2 linked regions of the Homo sapiens genome follow. The protein of the gene in region 1 interacts with the protein of each later gene in a biochemical or structural test. Each region holds a gene or a part of one and is shown on either strand. Other genes may lie near its edges.

The links. The genes of interacting proteins can lie anywhere in the genome.
Region 2: the proteins of ATP2A2 (region 1) and FRMPD3 interact in a test that uses a peptide from one of them, tested with the Homo sapiens proteins (one large-scale study listed by IntAct).

The regions. Positions count from the first base shown.
Region 1 is NC_000012.12:110,283,610-110,288,697, reverse strand, and holds part of ATP2A2 (sarcoplasmic/endoplasmic reticulum calcium ATPase 2), read right to left. Parts: intron 1-5,088.
Region 2 is NC_000023.11:107,592,625-107,596,976, reverse strand, and holds part of FRMPD3 (FERM and PDZ domain-containing protein 3), read right to left. Parts: intron 1-4,352.

The DNA.
Region 1 (5,088 bases):
AGCAGTGGCTCACACCTGTAATCACAGCACTTTGGGAGGCTGAGGTGGGCAGATCACCTGAGGTCAGGAGTTCAAGACCAGCCTGACCAACATGGCGAAAACCCATCTCTACTAAAATACAAAAAATTAGCCGAGTGTGGTGGTGGACGCCTGTAATCCCAGCTACTGGGGAAGCTGAGACAGGAGAATCGCTTGACCCCGGGAGGCAGAGGTTACAGCGAGCCGAGATCGCGCCATTGCACTCCAGCCTGGCTGACAAGAGCAAAACTCCATCTCAAGGAAAAAAAAAAAAAGAATTATCTGTTTCAGCTGGGTGAGGTGGCTCATGCCTATAATCCTAATGCTTTGGGAAAATCTCTTAAGGCCAGGAATTGGAGACTAGCTTGAGTAACATAGTGAGACCCTATGTGTATAAAAAAAAATTTTTTTTTAATTAGTTGGGCATGGCAGGGCATGCCTGTAGTCCTGACTACTCGGGAAGATTGCTTGAAACCAGGAGTTTGAGGTTATAATGAGCTATGATCGTGCCACTACTACATTCCAGCCTAGGTGACAGAGTGAGACTCTGCCTCAAAAAAAAAAAAAAAAAAAAAAAAGGGCAAAGCATGATGGCTCACACCTATAGTCCCAGCTACTTGGGAGGCTCAAGAATCAGGCTTCAGCCCAGGTGTCTGAGGCTGCAGTGAGCTATAATCGCACCACTGCATTTACCCGCTGGGCGACAGGAGACCCTATCTCCAGGAAAATTGAAAATTTTAAACAGTGTGTAAAAGGATTATCTGGGCTGGGTGAGGTGGCTCATGTCTGTAATCCCAGCACTTTGGGAAGCTGAGGCAGGCGGATCACCTAAGGCCAGGAGCTGGAGACCAGCCTGGTCAACATGGAGAAACCCCGTCTCTACTAAAAATACAAAAAATTACCCGGGCGTGGTGGTGCATGCCTGTAATCCCAGCTACTCGGGAGGCTGAGGCAGGAGAATCACTTGAAGCTGGGAGGTGGAGGTTGCAGTGAGCCAAGATCGCACCACTGCACTCCAATCTGGGCGACAGAGCAGGACTCCGTCTCAAAAAAAAGACAGCGAAAAGGTAACAAGCTTCATGAACAGCAGCAAAGAAAAGTAAAAGAGAAGACCACTGCCCCATAGTTTTGGACATAAACAGTGTTTCTTCTTCCCTTTGCTTTGTGCTAAATACAATAATACCTGTCTTCTGGGACATACATTATCAAACAAGTTCAATGCTTCAAATGTGCCAGTATTATTCAAAGTAACCACTTGCTAATGAACACTCAACTACATTAAACTGTTAAAAATAGAGTAGGGATAGAGTATCTCCCAATTATTATCCACAAGATTAATCTCTGTACAGCACTGAAATACTGTACAACACTCTGTACTGCATTATACTTCTGATAAGTATACTAAAGCAAAAAAAAAATTTTTTTTTGAGACGGAGTCTCACTTTGTCACTCAGGCTGGAGTGCAGTGGCGCAATCTCGGCTCACTGCAACATCCGCCTCCCGGGTTCAAGCGATTCTCCTGCCTCAGCCTCCTGAGTAGCTGGGATTACAGGGACCCACCACCACGCCTGGCTAATTTTTGTATTTTTAGTACAGGTGGGGTTTCACCATGTTGGCCAGGCTGGTCTCGAACTCCTGACCTCAAATGATCCACCCACCTCGGCCTCTCAAAGTGCTGGGATTACAGGCATGAGCCACTCACTGCACCCGGCCAAATAAAGCAAATTTTAATCCAAGGTAAAAAGCACGTTCTGCTGTAAACTGGGAGACAGTCATGATATTGTGACTCAGATATCTATACACTGTGATAATAGGAAGAGCTCTTAGTATCATAAAAAGAAAACGAAAGAAAAAAGTGCTTAAAAAGATCATAAGCACATTTTGCTCCTAGTATTCTCAGAAACTTGCACTGTGCCTTTGGGCCCTCAAACAATTGCTCAATAAATGAAGAAATTTACATCAAGTTTTTTTTTTTTTTTAAATAAAGAGGAAATGGAAATTAAACATTTCGAGAATGATACAGAGAATTACCAATAAACGTTACGATAATTTCTGGGGGAGGACTTTCAGTCATTAATAAAACGGAAAAAAAAGCATGAATTAGAACTCGTTCCCTTCTGATCCAGATATAAAGCTATGTAAAAACATTCAATGCTTTCAGGCATGAGAAAACAATCTTTTTAAAAAGTACTCTATTAAATCCACCTTTCAAGTCATTATTTTAAGAAAAGCTCTGAATAAACTAGTTAAACCAATCAGTAATTTGCCCTTCTTATCCCATTTTTAAAATCAAAAATTAAAAGATACAGAAGAAAATTAAAATCACTACAAATCCAGTATCAAATGCTTTGAGTATTCTCTTCTGAGAAACTACAGTAAAAAGATCTCATGTATTTTCAGAAAATTCTACTGAAACAAACTCACCCAAGTTTTTGTGACATCAAAAGCACTAACTTAGGCCAGGCGCAGTGGTTCATGCCTGTAATCCCAGCACTTTGGGAGGCTGAGGCAGGTGATAACCTGAGGTCAGGAGTTCGAGACCAGCCTGGCCAACAAAGGTAAACCCCATCTCTACTAAAAATACAAAAATTAGCCGGGCGTGGTGGTGGACATCTGTAATCCCAGCTACTCAGGAGGCTGAGGCAGGAGAATCACTTGAACCCAGGAGGTGGAGGTTGCAGTGAGCCGAGATTGCACCACTGCGCTCCAGCCCGGGCAACAAGAGTGAGACTCCATCTACATTTAAAAAAAAAAAAAAAAAAAAGCACTAACTCAAGGGGGTCTAGTAGGAAGAAAAGAGACACACACATGCAAATGGTCAAATGTAACCTAAAGGTTGAGAAGTACCACAGTCTAGAAAGTTTTATTAGCATTTTAGGGTCAATCTAAGTAGCTGACATGGGAAACGACGGTGGAAGGTAGAGAAACCTATGCAAATTATTACCATATTAATTATGACTTTATGATTTAGACAGATGGGAGACCAACATGGCCCTAATGCCCACCTCCTTCAGATCTTTTCGCAAATGTCACCTTCCTCAAGAACTTTCCGGACCACCCAATTTGAAAACTGTTCCCCCTTTCACATACTCTGATATCCAAACCCCCTTGCTTTATTTTTCTCAGCAGTATTATCCTCCAGGTAAGGGTCTCTGTCTGTTTTATTCACTACTGTATCCCCAGTGTCTGTGACAGGTGCTCAATAAATATCTTAACAAAGCAGGAAAAGAGAAGAAAGGGCAGGCATCAGTTAAGCAACCATACGATGTGTTACATTTAGAACAAAGTTGGTAATCAAGAAGAGAATGAAAAGATAAAGTGAATGATAGAGGGGGGGTCTTCAGTGTCAAATTAAGCAATTTCTAATGTTCATATGCACTGGAAGATGAAGCTTATTTCTTTCAATCCAAGTGACCGTTTCAAAAAAACACTTTGGCCAATATTACAAATTAAACTAGATCCCTACAGGTCACAAGCATAGCTTCCTATTCTATGCCACAGCAAAATATTAACTATAGTTAACAGTTTACTACTTAGTTTGATATTTGAAGTAAGTCACTAATATTCTTTTTAATTTAAGCATGACTTGATGACGCATGATGTATATAAGAATCGCCTAGTCACTTCTCCAAAAAAACCTGAATATTCTACCATGTTTTTTCTGTTACATCAATAGGAATAAACTGACACAAAAAGAGAGTCAGTGCTCTTTCTTTTAAAAGATACAGACAGGAGGAATGAAACACTAAAGACAATGCAGCAGCAGTACCCAACCCCACATGAAGAAAATCAACACAACAGGTCTTATATCTGCAATTCCTTGATCAAACAAACCAAAGCAAATTAATTCTATAGAAGTACTCCCTAAACACTTATTCTTTTGCTATTTACCAACTCATAAAATAAAAATGTAACACAGTTCATTTCCTGAGCAGTAACTCCACAGTTACCAAAAAGGAGCTCAAATTTCAACTCCAAAATATAGCTCTATAATGCTCCACAAAGCCAAGGTCCTATCTTATAAAAAAAATTAAAGCATTTATTTAAAAACCTGCTTGAAATGCTTACAAACTATAAGCCTCTAATTACTTCAAAGTAAAAAATGAACAAACAAAACCCACACACATCATTAATTTAAAATGCTAATATAAAGTCACTCAAACTGGCCACTCAAAAAACAGACCCAGTGCAACCCCAATAGTAACACCAGTGGCATGGTTTCCCACACTGCTTCAACTTGTAACACAGAGAATTCAGTAAAAATGTATTTTGCTTCTGGCTTGTAGTCAGCTGATTAATTTTTAAGAAGTTCCCAATGACCTTATCGGACCCCATTATTTAACTGCCAACGCTATTATGTACCCAGTTAAATACAAATCTTACACTAGCTCCAAATGTATCATTTATTTTGCCCCATGACAATGTATTGATAAACTATAGTTAATCGGGTCTACTCATTTCCCTTAATTGGTAAAACAGCAGCCATTTTCTGGGGGAAAATTTTTTAATCAATCAAGAAGAAACATTTTATCAGAGGTACATTGTGACTGACTCAGAATGCTGAATGGTTTGCTATGTAAGTCCCCATTTTAATCAATGAAAACCACAGAAAAGGTTCTTGGGGACTGAATTATTAATGGCTACACAATACTTGGCTAATATGGCATAATAAAGTATCATAGCAGGATTTATGTAAAAATTATTCCACAAATTTATTTACTGCTGCCACTATCTACTTAAAAGATGGGTATAAATTTAATCTTTTCCTCATCTGAACTAAATAAATGCCCACTGCTTTGTTTATTTCGTTCTCAAAATAGCCCTCTATGGTATGGTTCTCACAAAGACTGAGGCTGATCCCTGGGACCTGCATACATATATGTACAAGAACTGAAACCGTGAAGTTTTGTCAATTTTGTTTTAACTAGAAAGAAGTACTGCACTGGGTGAATTTCACTTATCGTGGTTTTTGTAAGAATAACGTAATTCAAGAATAAAAGGCATCTCATGCTATTAGAATTAGGAACATCTGTGTCCTATTCCTGACCATTTTTAGGAAAACTAGCAAGC
Region 2 (4,352 bases), on another chromosome or scaffold:
AGTCAGCTGTAAACGTATGTCCCACTTGGAACTGTTCCTACCCCTGTCCCCACCCCTTTTCAGAGCTTTTCCACCAGTGCTCTGTTGTTCTTGTTATCTTGAATCTCTTCTAGCAGAAGGAAATAAATCTGACAAGTTACTAATGCTTTAGTCAGAACCTGTTAAACAGGCTACATATAATGCCGAAGAGTTTGCATTTCAAAGAGGCCTGTTGATGGAGGGATCCTAAAAGAATAAGGCTCTATATTAGAATTCCGGGGTCTGAATGTGTAAAGTATATGGGAGATATGCTGGGATGTGCATATGTGGGAGGAGGGCAGGGGAAGCATTCTTATAATTCTTCAAATTTTATTCTTTTCTGCATTCATGCAGGGCCAGCCCTACCTGCTACACATACATATGGCAAATGCTCTCGTCAACCGCTCTTAATGATGGTAGGTGTGTGCATCTGAGAATTATCTATAGCAAATGCTTTATCTGTGAATACCTTCTCTCACTGTTTTTGGAGCTCTTCCCCATTTTATCTGTGAGAATATACTCGGACAGCAGACAGACAGATAACAAACAAGCACTAACTTAGGCTAAGGTCCTAATATACATGATCCTACTTATTCTTCATAACAACCCAATGAGGTAGTTATTATCATTATTCACATTTTAAGGATAAAGAAACTGACTCACCTAAGGTTACATAGACCAAGTGGTAGACTGGATTTCCGCCTAGGTCTGAAAGACTTCAAAACCCATGTTTTTAGCCATTACCCTTATAACTCATCATGGTGGTCAAGATGCTGGAAAACAAGCCTTCAAAATGCCACTCAAACTCCAGTTTGACAGAGTCAATATGCCAGTGTTGCCTTTCACTAGAGATTACATCTATGACAAAAGTACAGCACTGGCACCTAACAACAAAACTCCCAAATACAGGAAGAAAAAACTGACAGAATTGAAGGGAAAAATACACAATTCAACAACAGTAGTAGGAGACTTCAATACTCTACTTTCTTTCTTTTCTTTTCTTTTCTTTTTTTTTTTTTTTGAGACGGAGTCTCACTCCGTTGCCTGGGCTAGAGTCCAGTGGTGCGACCTCGGCTCACTGCAGCCTCTGCCTCCTGGGTTCAAGTGATTCTCCTGCCTCAGCCTCCCGAGTAGCCAGGATTACAGGCGCCTGCCACCACGCCCGACTAATTTTTTGTGTTTTTGGTAGAGGCGGGGTTTCACCATGTTGGCCAGGCTGGTCTCAAACTCCTGACCTCAAGTGATCCACCTGCCCTGGCCTCCCAAATGCAGGGATTACAGGCGTGACCCACCGCACCCGGCCAATACTCCACTTTCAATAATGGATAAAACAACTAAGCAGAATATCAACAAGGAAACAGAGGACCTGAACAATACTATAAATCAAACTAGACCTAACCGAAATCTATAGAACCATCTACTTAACAGCAGCAGAATATACATTATTCTTAAGTGCATATGGAACACTGTTGTGAATAAACCGTATGTTAGGATATAAAATAAGCCTTACTAGATTTAAAAGGAATAAAATCATACAAAATATATTTTCTGAGCACAACATAATTAAATTAGAAATCAGTAACAGAAGGGAGTCTGGGAAATTCACAAGTAGAAATCAAACAAAACACTTTTTTTTTTTTTTGATACAGGGTCTTGCTCTGTCACCTAGGTTGGAGTGTAGTGGTGCAATCTTGGCTCACTGCAACCTTCACCTCCTGGGCTGAAGTGATCCTCCCGCCTCAGCCTCCCAAGTAGCTGGGATTACAGACACCTGCCACCACGCCCAGCTAATTTTTGTATTTTTGGTAGACATGAGGTTTCACCATGTTGGCCAGGCTGGTCTCAAAATCCTGGCCTCAAGTGATCTGCCTGCCTCAGCCTCCCAAAATGCTGGGATTACAGGCATGAGCAACCGTGCCCAGCCAAAACACTCTTAAATAACCAGGCTGTCAAGGAAAAAAATCACAAGAGAAATTAGAAAATACTTTGAGATGAATAAAAATGAAAATACCACATACCAAAATTTATGGGATCTAGCTAAAGTCGTTTTTTTAAATTTTTTATTAATTTATTTTTTGAGATGGAGTTTTGCTCTTATTGCCCAGGGTGGAGTGCAATGGCACGAACTCAGCTCACTGCAACCTCCACCTCCCGGGTTCAAGCGATTCTCCTGCCTCAGCCTCCCAAGTAGCTGGGATTATAAGCATGTGCCACCATGTCTGGTTAATTTTGTATGTTTAGTAGAGATGGGGTTTCACCATGTTGGTCAGGCTGGTCTCGAACTCCTGACCTCAAGTAATCTGCCTACCTCAGCCTCCCAGAGTGCTGGGATTATAGGCGTGAGCCACCGCGCCCGGCCTAAAATAGTTCTTAAAGGGGAAATCTGTAGCTGAAAGTGCCTACGTTAAAAAAGAGGAAAGATTTCATATGAATTACCATAAACTTCCACTTCTACCTTAAGAAACCAGAAAAACAAGAGCAAACTAAGTAGAAAGAATGAATAAGACCTACTATTTGATAACGCAATAGGGTGACTACCGTCAATAATAACTTAATTGTACTTTTAAAAATAACTAAAAGAGCCAGAGTAATCAGACAAGAGAAATAAATAAAGGGCATCCAAACTGGTAAAGAGGAAGTCGAATTGTCACTGTTCACAGATGATATGATCATATACTTAGAAAATGCTGAAGACTCATCCAAAAAGCTCCTAGATCTGATAGATGAATTCATTAAAGTTTCAGGATACAAAATCAATGTACACAAATCAGTAGCACTGCTATACACCAACAGTGACCATGCTGAGAATCAAATCAAGAACTTCACCCTTCTTACAATAGCTGCAAAAAAAATAAAACACCAAGGAGGTGAAAGACCTCTACAAGGAAAACTACAAAACACTGCTGAAAGAAATCACAGATGACACAAACAAATGAAAACACAGCCTATGCTCATGGGTGTGTGCAATCAATATTGTGAAAATGACCATACTGCTAAAAGCGATCTGCAAATTCAACGCTATTCCCATCAAAATGCCATCATCATTTTTCACAGAACTAGAAAAAAAAATCCTAAAATTTATATGGAACCAAAAAAGAGCCCGCATAGCAAAAGCAATCCTAAGCAAAAGAACAAATCTGGAGGCATCACATTATCAGATTTCAAACTATACTACGAGGCATGGTACTGGTATAAAAATAGGTACATAGGCCAATGGAACAGAATAGAGAACCCAAAAATAAACCCAAATACTTACAACCAACTGATCTTCGACAGAGCAAACAAAAACATAAAGTGGGGAAAGGACACCCTTTTCAACAAATGGTGTTGGGACAACTGGCTAGCCCCATGTAGGAGAATGAAACTGGATCCTCATCTCTCACATTGCACAAAAATTAACTCAAGAGGGATTAAGGACTTAAATCTAAGACCTGAAACCATAAAAGTTCTAAAAGATAACATTGGAAAACCCCTACTAGACATTGGCTTACACAAGGATTTCATGACCAGGAACCCAAAAGCAAAAGCAATAAAAATAAAGATAAATAGTTGGGACTTAATTAAACTAAAGAGCTTTTGCACAGCAAAAGGTACAGTCAACAGAGTAAACAGACAACCCACAGAGTGGGAGAAAATCTTTGCAAACTATGCATCCAACAAAGGACTAATATCCAGAATCTACAAGGAGCTCAAACAAATCAGCAAGAAAAAAACAAACAATCCCACCAAGAAGTTGGCTAAGGACATGAATAGACAATTCTCAAAAGAAGGTATACAAATGGCCGAGCATAGGGAAAAATGTGCAACATCACTAATTATCAGGGAAATGCAAATCAAAATTACAATGCAATATCACCTTACTCCTACAAGAATTCACCATAATGGCTGGGCGCGATAGCACATGCCTGTAATCCCAGCACTTTGGGAAGCTGAGGTGGGCAGATCACAAGGTCAGGAGTTCGAGACCAGCCTGACCAACATGGTGAAACTCCGTCTCTACTAAAATACAAAAATTAGCCAGGCATGGTGGTGCATGCCCGTAATCCCAGCTACTCAAGAGGCTGAGCCAGGAGAATGGCTTGAACACGGAAGGTGGAGGTTGTGCCACTGCACTCCATCCTGGGTGACAGAACAAGACTCTGTCAAAAAAAAAAAAAAAAAAAAAGAATGGTCATAATTTAAAAATAAAAAAAAAATATGTGTTGGTGTGGATATGGTGAAAAGGAACACTTTTACACTGCTGGTGGGAATGTAAACTAGTACAACCACTATGGAAAACAGTATGGAGATTCCTTAAAAAACTAAAAGTAGATTTACCATTTGATCCAAGAGTC